Linked DNA regions of Homo sapiens: region 1 is linked to region 2. Evidence: fine-mapped expression QTL. A gene starts in region 2. The other region holds a variant in brackets. All regions are shown on one strand. Distances are from middle to middle. Region 1 overlaps TRAPPC12 (trafficking protein particle complex subunit 12). Region 2 holds the start of EIPR1 (EARP complex and GARP complex interacting protein 1).

Region 1 (9,783 bases), 27 kb before region 2:
GCCACCACGCCCGGCTAATTTTTTGTATTTTTAGTAGAGATGGGGTTTCACCGTGTTAGCCAGGATGGTCTCGATCTCCTGACCTCGTGATCTGCCCGCCTCGGCCTCCCCCCTCCTCTATTTTCAATGATAGATGTCAGAAATATGAAGCAAAGAAACTATTTTTAAAATCAGAATCTAAAGTATACCACATAAAACTTTAAACTTTGTGAAAGAAATCTTATGAAAATCTCATAATTACTGTACATGACATGTAAAATTCTAATAATGAAGTTAGTCTGATATGAGATAAAGATTTTAGATAAAAACTACTTTTACGTTTTTTTGCTAGGAGTACGATACAGGGTCTATTTGAAAAACTGAACGTAGGCATTACACAATTTCCAAATGATGAGAAAAATAGTCTAATAAAAATCACTCAAGTAACTAATGGCATGTACATAACTTTTCTCCATCTAAGACTCAAAGGGAATTATTACCTCTACATATGATACCATTAAAGTGATTAACACGTCCTTCTCCCAGGCTGTGACATCCATTTCCCTGTAAATTACAATCTTAGGAAACTCTGACATAACTTAGGGAAATAATTCAAAAACCCTTTCCTGGCTGCCTTAAAGACAACACGAATTATTTTAGGACACACTAGAATTAAAATACCAGGGCAAGGTAAAGATCCTTTCATAAATACATTTTTCACCTTACGTAAGCTCCCTTGTTAGGCCTGTTAATAAAATTTCTGATGGTCTCAAGTATTTCCAACGTATGAAACACATCAAACCATTGTATATATTTATTAATAACAGGAACGATCAAAGAGGGTAAAAAATAGCCTGTAGAAAAAATTAATTATAATTAACATGCATGGCTTTGTGTGTGATTTTTAAACCCATTATTATAAAGCCCTGTCATGCTGCCAGTTCAGTTCCTGCCTCAAGAGGATACATCACAGCAGCTTCCCCATGGCCAAACCAAGGGGCCACGCCCACACCCTTGGGAACAGAGCATGGGCCAGGGAAATGGCCACCCTGGAGATCCGTAACTGCATTAGCAAATTATAAAGGATACAGATACTTACAAATTAGCTGTTTTTTCCCCTTTAAAAAAGAGTATCTCCATCTCTCTCCTCTCCAAAGCTTTCTAATCATAGAAATAATTACAGAATCACTTTGGTAAAAGAAACTCAAAGAAGCATTCGACTGACATTGACTCACATTTAAACTTGGTGTGATGTGTGAAGGTAAGCAAGGGATGCTTGTTTACCTTTTTGAGGACACGCTTCTGTAAATACGGTAAAGAACGTGGGGAAGAAAGGCAATTTGGGGAGCATAGTTTCCAGTGGTTCACAGGCTACCAGAGGATTCAGACAGCAAACACCTACACCTAAGATAATTTCCTGCTTCTATTTTAGGAGAGGGTCTCTGCCTGGGTTTTTGCGCTTACTCCGAGTTAATGAGTACAGACCTGTGTGTGTATGTTGCGTGACCATGTGAGTGACAGTTCCACAGCTTGGGGAGCGTGGTGCAGAGGAAGGAGGAGAGGGAAGCGTCTCTGGGGAAGGTTTGGCTTCTCTGAGTCTGGAAGGGTCCTTCAGTCTCTGCAAGTCAGGGAACAGCTGGGAACTTTGCTCTGGGGCAAGAGGCCTGAGGGATTCATGCTGGAGCTCTCGGGATTCCCGCCAGTTACAGAAGCAGGGTTGTGGGAACTGGTATTCAAGATGTAGTACAAGCAGCTTCCCTATGGGAAGTGGATTCAGGGCATGAGGAGAGAAAAGAGAAACTTCACTGCCATGGGTTAGGAGTGCAGCTGAATTTGTGTCTGTGTCTGAAGACACTGATGAAGAATCATAAGAGTTACAATAAATTTGTGAATCTGGAATATATACTTCTTTTAAAAATAGTGTATGAGCTTCAAGTCAGCAATAAGTAAATTAAAAATAATAGAATAGCACTTCTAAATCTGAGTAAATCCCATAAATGGTTAAGAAGGCAGAACTTCACGGAGCAAGAGCACTAGCTTAGCAACCTTTATTGTTATTGCTGGAAAGAGAAGAGGCTTAATATGTGTTTGCTCAATGAATACACTAAGAAACACAAGTGAGAACTTGTTTGTTTGAATCCCATCAGATATAAGGTCTTCTCATGGGAAATCCTACCCCTGGATACAATCCAGTCCTAGAAGCTGTATTGAAAAGCGTAATTCCCACGGTGTGTAGATCCGACGGTTCAGAAATACTAAGTCATTTGGTGGGAGGTAGTCAATGAGCAAAACCAACACCAGCAACTGTGCTTTTTGCTGGGCTGTGCGGACTGTGTAAGGGACATGGGGCAGTAGGGATGGTACTGGTAACAGGAGCAAGGACATTTGTTTGGGGCCAACCTCTACACCTTTGTAGATCTTAGTGTTCTAATCTACAAAGCGGGCATTTTGGACTATGTTAGTTTTTCAAATTTTTAAATAGTAAAATTCATCCTCCTTTCCCCCCACCCCCCCAAAAAAAGACATCTCAAGAGAGACTTCTACATAAAGTAGACCCTGCTGAAATGCTCTGCCTGACACTGGCCCTACCAAGTCACCTCCGCAGGCCATGCCCAGTCACCCCAAGGTCCCTCCCTGGAACCCGAGGGTTCTCAGAATCACAGTTTGAAAATGTGCTGGATTCGATTTTCATTCCTTTCAAATCCTTCCTTTCCTTTTCTGTCATTGCAGAGGAAGAAATGTTCCATCTTTCTCCAGACTAATCTTCTTGTGGTTTCATCTCCTCACTCTTTGCGCCCCCTCCCCCGTAACCGCCCCCCACTCTATCCTTTTGTATGAGCTCCTTCTCTATTTCTTTAAACCCAACATTCTGACGCTACTTCTTTATCAAAAGAGTAGCTTACCGACTGGGGGTTCTCTTATCTATTCATTCCCTCATCCCTTTATTTACTCAAGAAGACGCCGTGTACCCATTCTGTGCCTGACCGTGCTGGGTCCTCAGATGCACTGGTGAACAAGACACGCTTCCTGACTGTCACGGTGTTTATTACAGATTTTTAATTTTTGTAGGTTGGCTCTGTCTCCCCCAAGTTACAGCATTTGTTATTGACACTGATGACATGTCACCTCCCAGTTCATGCATATAATGAAGTCAGGATAAAATCCAAGTAACTAAGGCTGCTTTGCCAATGTTCGGTACTTTCTCAAAAACAGGCTTTTTGGGCAAAACTCCAAAAAAAGATTTTTTTGGGAAAAAGATCAGGGATCAAAGGAAGTTAAAAATCAAGATCGAGAAGAATATAAGAAACTGACTTTTGAGTAAAATGGGGAGGATTCTATATTTTTTCCTTTAGGCTCTCTTAGGAAGCAAGAGATCTGCTGACAATAGAACACTAGAAAGTAGAAAGTCAAAGAGAAGTTTAAAATCAGAAGAGAGGGACTAGAAAATCCAGGAACCCAGGGCACGATGTCCCTGCGCGACCTCACAGCAGAGTACAGCCCCCACCCATGCTTCGGAAAGGCCCTCACACAACCGCGATCTGGGTCATCACAGCCGGGAGCCAGGCCCCAGGCAAAGGGGTTCCAGGTGGCCCGGTCAGCGTAGCAGGCAGTCCCCAATCCATACTGAACCCAGGAAAGCTTCTAAAGTGTCACAGAAGTCACAAGACCACACATAATAAGGATTTGTCTGAATTCAAGAGAACTAGTCAATTAAGGAAAAAATTTTGTTACTTTGTTAAATGCTCCTGTTAAAGATCAAGAAATCACTCCTCTCCTGGCTCAGGATTTCAGCCTCACAAACATCAGTCATTTCTGGCAGAATGGGGACAGGCTATACCTCACTTTCAAATACA[G/C]AGGCAGAGGTGATGTAACAAAAAAGGAACTGGGATTATTTTCTTCTGAACTTCACTGTAGTCTTCTTGCAAGTAAGTGATTTACATATTACTGTTTTCACACAAAAGACAGTTGCCTCTGAGCTGGGACTGAGCCACGCGCTACTCCAAAATAAACTTTAAAACATTCTCATTTTCTGTTTTAGTTCACAGGCTAACCTTCACCTGTCATTTCAATGGGCTGCAAAGTTTAATCCTCCAGAAATTTCTAAACTTCTCAACTATTATATCTTTAGGAACTAAAGTTTGCTTAAAATAGGTGAAATCTGGTCGGGTGCGGTGGCTCACGCCTATAATCCCAGCACTCTGGGAGGGTGAGGCAGGCGGATCACCTGAGGTCAGGAGTTCAAGACCAGCCTGGCCATGGTGAAACCCTGTCTCTACTAAAAATACAAAAAATTAGCCGGGTGTGGTGGTGCACGCCTGTAATCCCAGCTACTCGGGAAGCTGAGGCAGGAGAATCACTTGAACCCGGGAGGTGGAGGTTGCAGTGAGCTGAGATCACGCCATTGCACTCCAGCCTGGGCAACAAGAGTGAAACTCCATCTCAAAAAAAAAAAAAAAAAAATTGGTGAAATCTGAAGCCCGGTGCAGAAGAATTAGTAACAATTGAGAAAAACAAGATGGGGAACTATTAGAAAAATAAGTAAATTAGGAAATTCCATTCTCTTTTTTGAAAGTTGAAAGGTGAATACATGTCCTCCAGATTGTTCACCCAAATGGAGAGTGTCTGGACCATGTGCCGCTGAAATACAGTCAGGATAAGGGCGCATTTCAACATGAGTTTCAGACAGCCGGTGGGACTTATTCCCAAAATCAAGGACCTCACTCTCCAAACCCCTTCAAGAAAGTGTGCCCACTAACTTGACTGCATGCAGGCATGGGAGCATGGCTTTGCTAAGTCCACTCTAGGCAACCGTGTGGATGAGCTAGCAGAGCAATTCCACAGCCCCCTAAGGAGACAACACTGGGGAGCTGAGATTCGGTGTGAGATGGGGCTCTCATTTCAGAGTACTTACCCCATGGCTACCATAGGATTCCTGAAGGAAACATACGCGACAAACTTCCAATATCTTCTCCTTAATCTAGAAAAGCTACCCAACGCAATTACAGCTGTCTTTAAGATTATAAATTCATTGGAAACAAATCAACCTGTACAGCAATGGTGATCCAGTACTAATGTTTTTTTATTTTTATTTTTTTGAGACGGAGTCTCGCTCTGTAGCCGAGGCTGGAGTGGCAGTGGTGTGATCTCGGCTCACTGCAACCTCCACCTCCCGGGTCCCAGTTCAAGCGATTCTCCTGCCTCAGCCTCCTGAGTATCTGGGATTACAGGAACGCACCACCATGCCCAGCTAATTTTTGTATTTTTAGTAGAGATGGGGTTCACCATGTTGGCCAGGCTGGTCTTGAACTCCTGACCTTGTGATCTGCCCGCCTTGGCCTCCCAAAGTGCTGGGATTACAGGTGTGAGCCACTGCGCCCAGCCATGAATTTTAAAAACCTACTTATAGAATTCATGACAAAGCTTAAAAATGTTCAGAAATTCACCCATTCAATAATAAACTTTCTACACAAAATGCAGAAAATGCAATATATTTAAAAAATGAACACAAATCATTTATCTCTATTATATATGATGAAGCAAACTCAATCAAAGTATGCACTGCTTTGAGTAATTTGATCATTTCCAATAATGGCTTTTTAACTAATTAGGCTTAAAAGTATCCATGTATTAATATGATGCTTTTTGGTGCACAGGACTGGCATCTACTCCAACAAAATTCTACTTATGTGCAAGAGCTTTGAATAATATTCAAAATAATTGACTTCTAGAGAAAATATTATGAAGGCAGGCAGGACTTATCACAAAACAACACTGAAATCAAACACATTGTCACTTACGATTAGCTGTTTCAATCCAACAAAAGATTGTTCCACTGAGTCGGCATTTAGGACTTGTCTCTTTGCTGCAGCTTTTTCACCCAGAAAGCGAAGCATCAAGTCTTTAACTGCATCTCCCTGGGAAGAATAGAAGAAAAATATGTCAAGACAATAAAATGTCAACTAAACTCAGCTAACCAGAACCCATAACTAAACACAATTTCTTTTTTCTCCACTGGCTTGTGGAGGTAAAAGTAACGGTTATAGTATCGTAAAACTTCAATTAACCAGAAGCTAAATTAGCACAATCGTTAATAAAATGCATAATTTTAGAATTGCTCTTTATTCTTTTTATTTTAAAAATTATATCTTTATTCACCACTGATCAGAAAGCATGTTCTTTATTCTGAAGAGGAAACGGTAAGTCCTACCGCCTACTACCAGGCTTGTAGTGAGAGGCAAAGCCAAGCCAGCAGAGAGGCCTCAGGTGAGGGGCCTAGGGAGGCCCAGGAGCATGAAGGTGACACTGCTGGGGACCAGGGGCTGCACCCACAGTGGCCAGCCTCGCGCTGGTGCAGGCAGGCCTGAATAGTCTTCCCAAATCTCATCAATGCCTCCATGCTTGCCTGGACCTCCAGGAAAGCCTGGAGGGCTAGGGCTAAAGAAGTTAAATTACCAATGGCCCTCTCTTCAGTGCTGAGGTCACCAGCCAAGCCAAAGGAAAACTGAGACCCCCTTTCACAGCAGGTCCTCGGTAGCCTCGCTGAGCCAGGCCTTGCTCCAGGAGCTGCTGGGCGCACTTCATGCTGCAAGCCAGGGAAGAATCCAGTTGCCTCTGCACGGGACCGTTTCTACTCCTGACCTGACTCCTCTGATTAGAACGATCTTTAGACGGTGCTGAAGAACACTGGACGTGGAATCTGAAGCATGCCACTTGCTTTAAAGGGAAGACACAGAAGGGCAAGGGGAGGGAGAACAGGTGCTTTTGTGTGGCCTGGGGACAGAAGAGATGTGCCAATGACCTGCCCTGAGCAGGGAGCAATCTCACAGCTAGTGTCAAGCCCAGATGCTGGGCGAGCCAGCCTTCATGACCCTCGGGAGTCGGCACAGTTCAGGGGCCCCAGGGAAGGGCCTGAAGTTACCAAGTCTGTTGTATGGGGACAAACTAGTCATCCCAACAGTGCAGAGAAAACTGTCACAGTCCACAGGCCTCAGTGCTGTTTCGGTGGCTGCACCGCAGGCCGAGGGAGAGTCCAGGGTAAGTAAAGGCTGCTCACAGGACACGATGCTCTCCACGGGCGGCAGGAGACGCCTCTCACACACAGCTGGGACCAGGACACAGCCCTGGACCATCTCTCTCCTTTCTGGGGGTGCTGCTGACTGAGGAAAGGCACCTGGGAAGGGGCAGCAGCACTGAGGTCCCTGAAACACCTGAGGCAGGGGCAGCTGGGGGGATAGAGCAGCCCAGGGGGAAAGGGAAGCAGCGCTGAGGTCCCTGAAACGCCAGAGACAGTGAGTATCCTGGGAGGAGGAAGCAGTGGCTCTGAGGTCCCTGAAACGCCAGAGACAGTGAGTATCCTGGGAGGAGGAAGCAGTGGCTCTGAGGTCCCTGAAACGCCAGAGACAGTGAGCATCCTGGGAGGAGGAAGCAGTGGCTCTGAGGTCCCTGAAATGCCAGAGACAGTGAGCATCCTGGGAGGAGGAAGCAGTGGCTCTGAGGTCCCTGAAATGCCTGGAGACAGCAAGCAGCCGGAGCTGGCTGGATCTTCCCTGACACGTGCTCTGGGCGTCTGGCCCGCAGCAGCTGCTGACAGGGACACAGCACAAAGTCCCTGCAGTCTCTCGGGTGAGCAGAAGAAAGACTCAAACTAGGACAACCCCAAGATGGGGGGTGGAGAAAGCCAAGATCTCTCCATCTCAGCACAAAGCTGCCTCCCAGCCACAGAGAAGCTGATGCTCATGCTGCAGGCGGGCCACTGGGAGCACGCAGTGACTGAGGGTGCAGAGAAGCCTGCGTGCCCCCTGCCTGGACTTCACCGCTGGCTCAGATCTCTTCCTATTGTTCTCCTACCCTTTTTTTTTTGGCGGCGGGGCGGTGGCGGGGGGAGCGGGGGAAAGAAAAGCATAGAAGTTGTTTCTCCTAAGAAGCAAGGTTATTTCAATCTTTTGCTATCTTTCAAAATAGTGACACTTAAAAGAAGAACAGAATCTAGACCATGAGAGCAAGAGAATCAGAAAAGCTGCTGACATTGCTTCTCTGCTCTGCTGCCTCCCTTCTACCAGGAGAGATCAACAGCCTGCGGCAGAAGGGGCTGGGTGGCTCCAGGTCATAGGTCTGTCTCTTCCCTGGGTGCTAAACCTGGTGCTCGCAGAGGCCAGCCTCACGTTTTCTCACATTGAGGAAAAGACCTAGGGGCAGCAGTTGTATAATTTCTGCTTTCAGAGCATAAGGTGAAGTACTTCAAATACCAGATCCACAAAATCAGCTAACTGATCTAGCAGCAATAATTAAAAGGCAAAATAAAAGAGTTCAGACACAGGGCCCCATAAAGCTCTGCAAAAATGCAACTCGTCTCAGACAAAGAGCATCTCAGCCAGGGGGGCAGCGAGCTGGGTAAAGAGCAAAATCAAATTGTAATGCCAGGGACGGAGGGCCAATTCAACTCCTCCATCCCCACAACATTATCAATGAGACCATGCTGTGAAAATCTCTTGTCCTTAAAATTCTCTGTTAGTTAATATTTTAGCTACCACAGCAAGTTCCTGAGATACTAGCATATGCATGACTATCAAATATCCCACCAACAGAGGGCCAAGGATGTGACAAGCGTCTTAGGACAAACCTCGCCCTTGCTGTGTGGCTAACTGAAGGTGGTGACAGCGCAGGGAGGTGGAGACGCTTGTACTGCATCTCCTCTAGCCGTTACTGTGCAGGGGAGGTGGGAGGGGGAGGGAACTTCCCCCAGGGCTTTCTAGAGAGCTGTGCTACTACACCTGGGATGGAATCCAGCTAGAACCAATGATTCCTTCAGACCAGCAAGCCATTCAGTGAGGGTCTACTTTATCCAGGGCAAGGTTCAGGGAACACGAAGGAAACACATGAATATATCACAATCTGGGACTCATCGTGATGTCGCCACCCCATTCTCCTGGTCAGGTGCATTTATGGAGGAGCAAGTGGCTGTTCTCACGGCTGACAGGCGGTTAGGGCCTGGCTGCCTTTCCTGCAATGGGGGAATAGTCTCAGTAGTCCCTTCTTGATTTTGATGGTGAAAGACAAAACAGAAGCCAGAGCAGTGGACTGAAAGCGTATGGGCCTTACTGTCTGGGAAGCCCAAAGACACAAATGCTCACGGGGTAGCGCTGCTGAAAGGCAGCAGCCCCTGCACCTGGCACAGAACACGCTGAGCTTTCTGCCACATCGCCAATGCAGAAAGGTGCCTGTTTATCCTGGCAGGGTCTATCCTCTGATCCAGTGTTTGCTTACTCCAGGGAAAAATGAGACCACCTGAACAAAAAAACCACAACAATTAAAACCCAAACCCAAACTCAAGGATGTGGAGCAACTGGAACCCTCACACACCACATCATTGGTGGGGAGTCAACATGGAATAGCCATTTTAGAAAACTGTCTGGCGGGGCCTCAAAATGTTGAACAGAGTTACCACAGAATCCAGCAAGTCCACACCTAGCTATACATCCCAGATCACTGAGAACACATAGACACAAACGCCTGTGTGTGAATGTTCACAGTAGCATTACTCACAACAGCCAAAAGGTAGAAACAGCCCAAATGTCCACCAACTGATGAATGAATAAAAAGCAGCAGTAATTTGCTTCTGTCCATTTCAGGGTAACTGGGACTGGACTGTCTTGATGTGAACAACTGCAACATTGCTCAGAAGAAATCTAACAACTGTCTTCAGACACAGCAAAGGACTGTGACCCAACAGAAGGAAAACATGAGTTGAACTCTTGAACCCAATGGCACTTTTTGGACCACATTGCAGGAGGAGAATCCCAAGCA
Region 2 (9,493 bases):
TGCACAGACACAAGCATAGTAATTATCATTTTAATGATAAAGCAGAGTGGCAACACCCAGTTTAGTAACTGTGAAGAAGATCCCATCAGATATCACAAAATGTAAGAACTGAATGAGTAACACTGTGTAATATTTCATTTGCTTTTCCCCTGTCCCTCTCCCACCCCAATCCCAAGACGGGACTGGCTCATTATCCGCCACTATCTTCTGAATTTGCGAACAGTGACTGAATCCAAAGACACCATATCTTCAAGTAGCCATTAAAAAGTACAAACCGTAGGTCCAAGAAAATTTTTCCTTGGGGCTACACTGTTTCGTAGTGAAGAGTGAAAAAATGACACGTTAAAACACATCTTTGACCCTAACGCTTTCTGTTGAATAAACGCTTTTTCGGTCTTCACAGTAAATATACTCTACAATTAGTATGTGTAGCAACAGCGGACGTTTACACAGTGACTCAAATGCTTTTACACTGCATTGCAGCCTCACAATGCTGAGTTTGGCAGGGCAGGTCATTAGTAACCTCTTTCCGCGGGAGGGTGAATTAAGTCTAAGGGAAGTTAAGGGGCTTGCTGGGGGCCTGGCTGGCACCAAGCCTGGAACTGGGGGTCTCGGGGACGCCTGGGCGCGCGCCAGCGGGTAGTTTCCCACACGCTTCGCAGCAGCTTCCCCTTCCCGCAAACTCCGCGGGCTGCAGAGACGCTTCCAGCCCTCTGCAGACGTGGAGAGCAAGGGCCGCGGCGACGTGGAGCCTGGCACAAGGCCCGCGGAGCACACACGCCCTTGGGTGGCAGGCGACCCCGCGCCCGGACCCCACGCCCACTCTAGCATCGGTCCCAGAGAAGGTCCCTCCGGGCTGAGGCCAAAGCCAGTGTGCTCCCTCCCCGAGGTGGCGCTACACGGTCCCATCCCCTCTGGACTGCCGAGGCCCTGATCCTCACCTGCCACCCGCCCACTGGAGCTGGGCTAAGGGGTCACCTGCGGCCGTGACCAAGGTCCGTGAGGAAGGTGACAGAAGCCGGGAATCGGAGAGGAACTGGCACCCCCGGGGAGCTCTGTACGCCTGCGCGTGCCGGGCCGCGGCGCGCCTAGTTCTGCTCAGGCCCGATGCAGGAACCCGAGGCCCTGCCCCCAGGCCGGAAATGGGGTTCGTTTCCGGTTCGTCTGCTGTGGGCGGGGCCTGGAGCCCTAGGTGTGAACGCGCACAGGCAACCAGGAGCCGGTAGTTGAGGGGAGCGGACCCTGTACTTGGAAATGGGAACGGAGACTCCACTCCACCTAGCCTGATTCTGTCACTCAGAGGCAATAGGCAAGCCTGTGGCAGATGGGGCGGGTGAAAGGGAGTCGCTTAGGCTATTTTTATTGACCAGCATATCCTAGAAATCAGTGTTTCTATGGATTTGTCTTTGTGTTTATCTGTATTTTGTAAGTTTCTTACCATGCACCTGCAGTACTTGTATAATAAAATTAATGATAAAGATATCAGTGATAGATGGGTGGGTTTAATCCCGAAGTATGAAGGCCCTCTTAGCTCCGCAAGTTAATATCGGCAAACAGAGTGGTTGAATAGGATGATTCTCATGTCTGGGCCATTGCTTACTTGATTTCTTTCTTTCTTGTTTTTGCTTACTTGATTTCTTTCTTTTCTTTTCTTTTTTTTTGACCGACTCTGGCTCTGTCGCCCAGGCTGGAGTGCAGTGGCGCGATCTCGGTTCACTGCAACCTCCGCCTCCCGGGTTCAAGCGATTCTCCTGCCTCAGCCTCCCGAGTAGCTGGGATTACAGGCGCGTGCCACCACGCTGGGCTAAGTTTCGTATTTTTAGTAGAGACGGGGTTTCACTGTGTTGGCCAGGCAGGTCTCGAACTGACCTTGTGATCCACCCTCCTCAGCCTCCCAAAATGCTGGGGTTACAAGCGTGAGCCACCGCGCCCGGCCTGCTCATTTGATTTCTCATGTAATCTCTAAAATTTCATACACTCAACAGATACTCATCCAGCCTTAACTCAATACCACGCGCCTTGCCCAACTGAGCAAAACGAGACCCAACCATTTCCGTCACGGAGATCAATAAAGGGTAGAGGGGAAAGCTAATCACAGAAATGGAGGAAAGGTGCGTGGTCCTGGAAGCCCCGGTGGAACCAGGCTAGCGGCGTGGTTCAGCTATGATGTATTTTGGAGTCCTTGCGATGCCATTTCTGCTGGCCCAAGGCCAGGGCAGGCACTTTGAGCAGGATGCGAAAGAGGGGCAGTCTCTCCACCACAAGTCTTTAGTCTTTGGAGACCTCTAGGAACCCCAGGGCCTTCCCTTCCGACTCCCATTCGGAGGCATATGCAGTCCAGGACCACCAGTGGTGCGGTGCCGGCTTTCATAACCCCATCCTTGGTAGTGCTTTCTTTGCCACACAGTGCTGGGCACCTGCAGAAATGCATTAGGCATGGCCCTGACTTAGGGCACCTTGGGCCGAACCTAAGGGAGTCAGCTCAGGTGCCCATCCTGGCTACCCAATGGACCAATGAGCGCTGCGACTGTGTTACTCAACTTTGCAGCGTCTCATCGGTAAAATGGAAGTGTAACAGCTTATTCATAGGGTTGGATGAAGCTCCTTATGGCAGTGCGTGTGAAGCGCTGGCCCAGCGCTCAGGAACGCCAAGTACATACAAATGACAATACATGGCGGCGCCCAACTACGGCGTGAGCGATTCTTAGATGCGATGGCTAGCTAAGGCTAATCGCCGCTTGCTCCCGACGGCCTGCGCTCGGAGCCGGCCTCCACCCACAGCCGGCCTCCGCGGCCCGCTCCGCCCACCAACTTATTTCCTCTGGGCCGGGTTCTCACCTCCAGGAGTCCCCGCGCTGAGAGCCCGGATGTGAGCCCAAGTGGCCATGCGCACAAGCCAGCGCCGCTGCCATTGGTCGCTGGTGAGGAACAGATTGATGACACATCCGAAAAATAGGAAGTGGCCACTACGGAAGCTGTTCTGGGCCAGAAAGACTTCCAGTTTGGAGTCGTTTGCTGCGGGGAGGGAATGAATGGGCGCTGGGAACACGCCCGCGAGGTGGGGACGCGCCGGCCGTAGCGAGGTCCTTAGCGTGTGAGTGGCCGGGGTCGGGTCGCTTCCCCGCAGCATGGAGGACGATGCACCAGTGATCTACGGGCTGGAGTTCCAGGTGGGTCACTGGGAGGGCGGCAGGTGCTGCTCGGCCTGGCTGTTGATAGCATGCGCGGTCCCATGGTGACTTCGGTTTGCAGATCTCCCACCAGCCCTGCAAGGACCCGTGTCTGTTCCCTAGTTCCCATTTTGCAGAGAAGTAAACTGAGGCTTTAGGAGGTTAAACGGTTGTACTGGATAACAGGGTTGGCCACAGCCGGCCTGCCTCCTTCCCCTTCACATCCTGTCCCGAACATGACTTCTGACCTGGAAGTTATCACTCACTTTGGTGGACTCATTTATTTACACGCCCACCTTTTCCTCTAGAATTTGAGTTCCTGAAGGTAGGAACTGTATGTTGTTTAAAATAAAAATGTTTGATTTTGAAACAATTTAAAGTATTTAGAAGAGTTGTAAAAATACATAGAAAGTTCTTCTTTACCCTCCACCCAGCTTCCCTTAATGTTAACACTTTACATAACCATCGTACATTTATCACAGCTTAGAAATTAACATTGGTACACTAATATTCAGTAAACCACAGACTGTCTTCGGATTCAACTGTTTTCACACTAGTTTTTTACCTTGTATTTTCCAGTGCCTTTTCATGACTGTCACATAGTAGGTGTTCAACAAATGACTATGAACCGAATGAGCCCCCAGAGCATAAGCAATGCACATGGTAGTTCAGGACAGCAAGAAAGCTGCCGTGGATAGAGTAAATGCGTCAGGGGGAATGAGGTAGGGGATGAGATGAGCGGGGGAGGAAGATGAGGATTGTGTAGGGCCTGTTAGAGCCCTGTCCTGGTTTTCATCTATTCAAGTAGCTTTTGAGAATGTGTTATGCCTAAAGCACTGAGGGACAGATAGAGAGATAGAAACACAGTTCACTGCCATATGAAATACTTGATACATAATTTTGTGCAGCAGTATGTGTTAAAGATATAAATGATGTCTGCTTTTTTTTTTTTTTTTTGAGATGGAGTCTTGCTCCGTTGCCCAGGCTAGAGTGCAGTGGCGTGACCTCGGCTCACTGCAACCTCCGCCTCCCGGGTTTAAGTGATTCTCCTGCCTCAACCTCCCAAGTAGCTGGGATTACAGGCACCCGCCACCACGCCCGACTAATTTTTGTATTTTTAGTAGATACGGGGTTTCACCATCTTGGCCTGGCTGGTTTTGAACTCCTGACCTTGTGATCTGCCTGCCTCAGCCTCCCAAAGTGTTGGGATTACAGGCGTGAGCCACCGCACCTGGCCAATGTCTGTTTTTAAGTAGGTTACAGTCAGAGAGGCAGCAGTGTTAGTAGAATAACATATGCCACCCAGACACCTAAGTTTTAAATCCTGCCTCTAGCACTTATTAACTATGTGACCTTGGGCCTCGGTTTCCTTGCCAATAAAATATGCATCTCCCTCCCCCCCACCTCATGGCTGTTATGAAATTAAATGAGTTAATACACTTAATTGAATCACGTAGAACAGTGCCTGGTGCATAGTGTGTTCAATAATTGTTGTTCTAATTGTTATAATGAGAGAAAATTCCTTTTTTTTCCTTTGTAGAAATGGGGTTTCGCCATGTTGCCCAGGCTGGTCTCACACTCCTGAGCTCAAGTGATCTGCCCTCCTTGGCCTCCCAAAGTGCTGGGATTATAGTCATGAGCCACCGCACCCTGCCTAAGACAAAATTCTTACAAATAAATTTTATACAGGGCAGCAGTTAAGTGTCCTGTATAATAAACTGTGCTATAGGATTTGACCAGTGGCTATATCACATTCACAAGACTGATAGCTTAACTACCAGTGATTTAGCTCTGGACTATGTGTCAGACACTCTGCTTAGCACTGTACAAATATTTCATTTAATTCTCACAGCAATCATTATTGGTAGGTGTTATTGTTCCTGTTTTACGGATGAAGAGACAGCCTCAGAGAGAATAGTTACCTGTCCAAGGCCACTTAACTAGTAAATGATAGACCTTGGATTCTGACCTACTTAGACTTTCAACCCAAACTGACCTCGAGTCCCCTTACCTGCTAAGTTCTACTGCTTTCTCTTTAACTAGATACACATAGGGATACACAGGGAGAGACCACATGGGTAGATAGAAGGTTCTATAATCTTGTACTACCTGAAGATGCATACTCTGCCAGTGCTACTTAATTTAACTTCTTGATCTCCTTAAGAAATCTCTCAAAAAACCCAGAGGATTTTATCTTCAGTATTGTATCTTTGAGGTTAACTGAAATGTTATTTTCTTTTTTTTCTCTCTTTTTTTTTTAAATTATTATTATATTTTAAGTTTTAAGGTACATGTGCACAATGTGCCAGTTAGTTACATATGTATACATGTGCCATGCTGGTGTGCTGCACCCATTAACTCGTCATTCAGCATTAGGTATATCTCCTAATGCTATCCCTCCCCCCTCCCCCCACCCCACAACAGTCCCCAGAGTGTGATGTTCCCCTTCCTGTGTCCATGTGTTCTCATTGTTCAATTCCCATCTGTGAGTGAGAACATGCAGTGTTTGGTTTTTTGTCCTTGCGACAGTTTACTGAGAATGATGATTTCCAATTTCATCCACGTCCCTACAAAGGACATGAACTCATCATTTTTTATGGCTGCATAGTATTCCATGGTGTATATGTGCCACATTTTCTTAATCCAGTCTATCATTGTTGGACATTTGGGTTGGTTCCAAGTCTTTGCTATTGTGAATAGTGCCGCAATAAACATACGTGTGCATGTGTCTTTATAGCAGCATGATTTATAGTCCTTTGGGTATATACCCAGTAATGGGATGGCTGGGTCAAATGGTATTTCTGGTTCTAGATCCCTGAGGAATCGCCACACTGACTTCCACAATGGTTGAACTAGTTTACAGTCCCACCAACAGTGTAAAAGTGTTCCTATTTCTCCACATCCTCTCCAGCACCTGTTGTTTCCTGACTTTTTAATGATTGCCATTCTAACTGGTGTGAGATGGTATCTCATTGTGGTTTTGATTTGCATTTCTCTGATGGCCAGTGATGATGAGCATTTTTTCATGTGTCTTTTGGCTGCATAAATGTCTTCTTTTGAGAAGTGTCTGCTCATATCCTTTGCCCACTTTTTGATGGGGTTTTTTGTTTTTTTCTTGTAAATTTGTTTGAGTTCATTGTAGATTCTGGATATTAGCCCTTTGTCAGATGAGCAGGTTGTGAAAATTTTCTCCCATTTTGTAGGTTGCCTGTTCACTCTGTTGGTAGTTTCTTTTGCTGTACAGAAGCTCTTTAGTTTAATGAGATCCCATTTGTCAATTTTGGCTTTTGTTGGCATTGCTTTTGGTGTTTTAGACATGAAGTCCTTGCCCATGCCTATGTCCTGAATGGTAATGCCTAGGTTTTCTTCTAGGGTTCTTATGGTTTTAGGTCTAACGTTTAAGTCTTTATTCCATCTTGAATTAATTTTTGTATAAGGTGTAAGGAAGGGATCCAGTTTCAGCTTTCTACATATGGCTAGCCAGTTTTCCCAGCACCATTTATTAAATAGGGAATCCTTTCCCCATTGCTTGTTTTTGTCAGGTTTGTCAAAGATCAGATAGTTGTAGATATGCGGCATTATTTCTGAGGGCTCTGTTCTGTTCCATTGATCTGTATCTCTGTTTTGGTACCAGTAACATGCTGTTTTGGTTACTGTAGCCTTGTAGTATAGTTTGAAGTCAGGTAGCGTGATGCCTCCAGCTTTGTTCTTTTGGCTTAGGATTGACTTGGCGATGAGGGCTCTTTTTTGGTTCCATATGAACTTTAAAGTAGTTTTTTCTAATTCTGTGAAGAAAGTCATTGGTAGCTTGATGGGGATGGCATTGAATCTATAAATTACCTTGGGCAGTATGGCCATTTTCACGATATTGATTCTTCCTACCCATGAGCATGGAATGTTCTTCCATTTGTTTGTATTCTCTTCTATTTCATTGAGCAGTGGTTTGTAGTTCTCCTTGAAGAGGTCCTTCATGTGCCTTGCAAGTTGGATTCCTAGGTATTTTATTCTCTTTGAAGCAATTGTGAATGGGAGTTCACTTATGATTTGGCTCTCTGTTTGTCTGTTATTGGTGTATAAGAATGCTTGTGATTTTTGTACATTGATTTTGTATCCTGAGACTTTGCTGAAGTTGCTTATCAGCTTAAGGAGATTTTGGGCTGAGACAATGGGGTTTTCTAGATATACAATCATGTCGTCTGCAAACAGGGACAATTTGACTTCCTCTTTTCCTAATCGAATAGCCTTTATTTCCTTCTGCCTAATTGCCCTGGCCAGAACTTCCAACACTATGTTGAATAGGAGTGGTGAGAGAGGGCATCCCTGTCTTGTGCCAGTTTTCAAAGGGAATGCTTCCAGTTTTTGCCCATTCAGTATGATATTGGCTGTGGGTTTGTCATAGATAGCTCTTATTATTTTGAGATACTTCCCATCAATACCTAATTTATTGAGAGTTTTTAGCATGAAGCGTTGTTGAATTTTGTCAAAGGCCTTTTCTGCATCTATTGAGATAATCATATGGTTTTTGTCTTTGGTTCTGTTTATATGCTGGATTACATTTATTGATTTGCGTAGATTGAACCAGCCTTGTATCCCAGGGATGAAGCCCGCTTGATCATGGTGGATAAGCTTTTTGATGTGCTGCTGGATTCAGTTTGCCAGTATTTTATTGAGGATTTTTGCATCAATGTTCATCAAGGATATTGGTCTAAAATTCTCTTTTTTGGTTGTGTCTCTGCCCGGCTTTGGTATCAGGATGATGCTGGCCTAATAAAATGAGTTAGGGAGGATTCCCTCTTTTTCTATTGATTGGAATAGTTTCAGAAGGAATGGTACCAGTTCCTCCTTATACCTCTGGTAGAATTCGGCTGTGAATCCATCTGGTCCTGGACTCTTTTTGGTTGGTAAGCTATTGATTATTGCCACAATTTCAGATCCTATTATTGGTCTATTCAGAGATTCAACTTCTTCCTGGTTTAGTCTTGGGAGAGTGTATGTGTTGAGGAATTTATCCATTTCTTCTAGATTTTCTAGTTTATTTGCGTAGAGGTGTTGGTAGTATTCTCTGATGGTAGTTTGTATTTCTGTGGGATTGGTGGTGATATCCCCTTCGTCATTTTTTATTGCGTCTATTTGATTCTTCTCTTTTTTTCTTTATTAGTCTTGCTAGCGGTCTATCAATTTTGTTGATCCTTTCAAAAAACCAGCTCCTGGATTCATTAATTTTTTGAAGGGTTTTTTGTGTCTCTATTTCCTTCAGTTCTGCTCTGATTTTAGTTATTTCTTGCCTTCTGCTAGCTTTTGAATGTGTTTGCTCTTGCTTTTCTAGTTCTTTTAATTGTGATGTTAGGTGTCAATTTTGGATCTTTCCTGCTTTCTCTTGTGGGCATTTAGTGCTATAAATTTCCCTCTACACACTGCTTTGAATGTGTCCCAGAGATTCTGGTATGTTGTGTCTTTGTTCTCATTGGTTTCAAAGAACATCTTTATTTCTGCCTTCATTTCATTATGTACCCAGTAGTCATTCAGGAGCAGGTTGTTCAGTTTCCATGTAGTTGAGCGGTTTTGAATGAGTTTCTTAATCCTGAGTTCTAGTTTGATTGCACTGTTGTCTGAGAGATAGTTTGTTATAATTTCTGTTCTTTTACATTTGCTGAGGAGAGCTTTACTTCCAACTATGTGGTCAATTTTGGAATAGGTGTGGCGTGGTGCTGAAAAAAATGTATATTCTGTTGATTTGGGGTGGGGAGTTCTGTAGATATCTATTAGGTCCGCTTGGTGCAGAGCTGAGTTCAATTCCTGGGTATCCTTTTTAACTTTCTGTGTCGTTGATCTGTCTAATGTTGACAGTGGGGTGTTAAAGTCTCCCATTATTATTGTGTGGGAGTCTAAGTCTCTTTGTAGGTCACTCAGGACTTACTTTATGAATCTGGGTGCTCCTGTATTGGGTGCATATATATTTAGGATAGTTAGCTCTTGTTGTTGAATTGATCCCTTTACCCTTAAGTAATGGGCTTCTTTGTCTCTTTTGATCTTTGTTGGTTTAAAGTGTGTTTTATCAGAGACTAGGATTGCAACCCCTGCCTTTTTTTGTTTTCCATTTGCTTGGTAGATCTTCCTCCATCCTTTTATTTTGAGCCTATGTGTGTCTCTGCACGTGAGATGGGCTTCCTGAATACAGCACACTGATGGGTCTTGACTCTTTATCCAATTTGCCAGTCTGTGTCTTTTAATTGGAGCATTTAGTGCATTTACATTTAAGGTTAATATTATGTGTGAATTTGATCCTGTCATGCTGTTAGCTGGTTATTTTGCTTGTTAGTTGA

What was found.
Region 1: its variant is fine-mapped to the expression of EIPR1 in lung (TOPMed, PIP above 0.99).

What each region holds. Positions count from the first base shown.
Region 1 is chr2:3,397,888-3,407,670 of GRCh38, reverse strand. It overlaps TRAPPC12 (trafficking protein particle complex subunit 12), which reads right to left. Exons shown (of 12, transcript NM_016030.6): 3 at 5,778-5,894. Among named protein-coding and RNA genes, the nearest start is that of TRAPPC12, 23 kb to the right of the region's middle. RefSeq lists enhancers at 5,850-6,773, 6,774-7,699, 7,700-8,625. The variant G/C (reference allele first, on the strand shown) is at 3,834.
Region 2 is chr2:3,371,325-3,380,817 of GRCh38, reverse strand. It overlaps EIPR1 (EARP complex and GARP complex interacting protein 1), which reads left to right and starts at 3,000. Exons shown (of 9, transcript NM_003310.5): 1 at 3,000-3,170. The coding sequence starts at 3,129. TRAPPC12 (trafficking protein particle complex subunit 12) reads right to left here and starts at 1,124. Exons shown (of 12, transcript NM_016030.6): 1 at 942-1,124. RefSeq lists silencers at 1,104-1,153, 2,717-2,776 and enhancers at 1,642-2,158, 2,159-2,675, 2,947-2,996, 3,017-3,196, 3,217-3,496.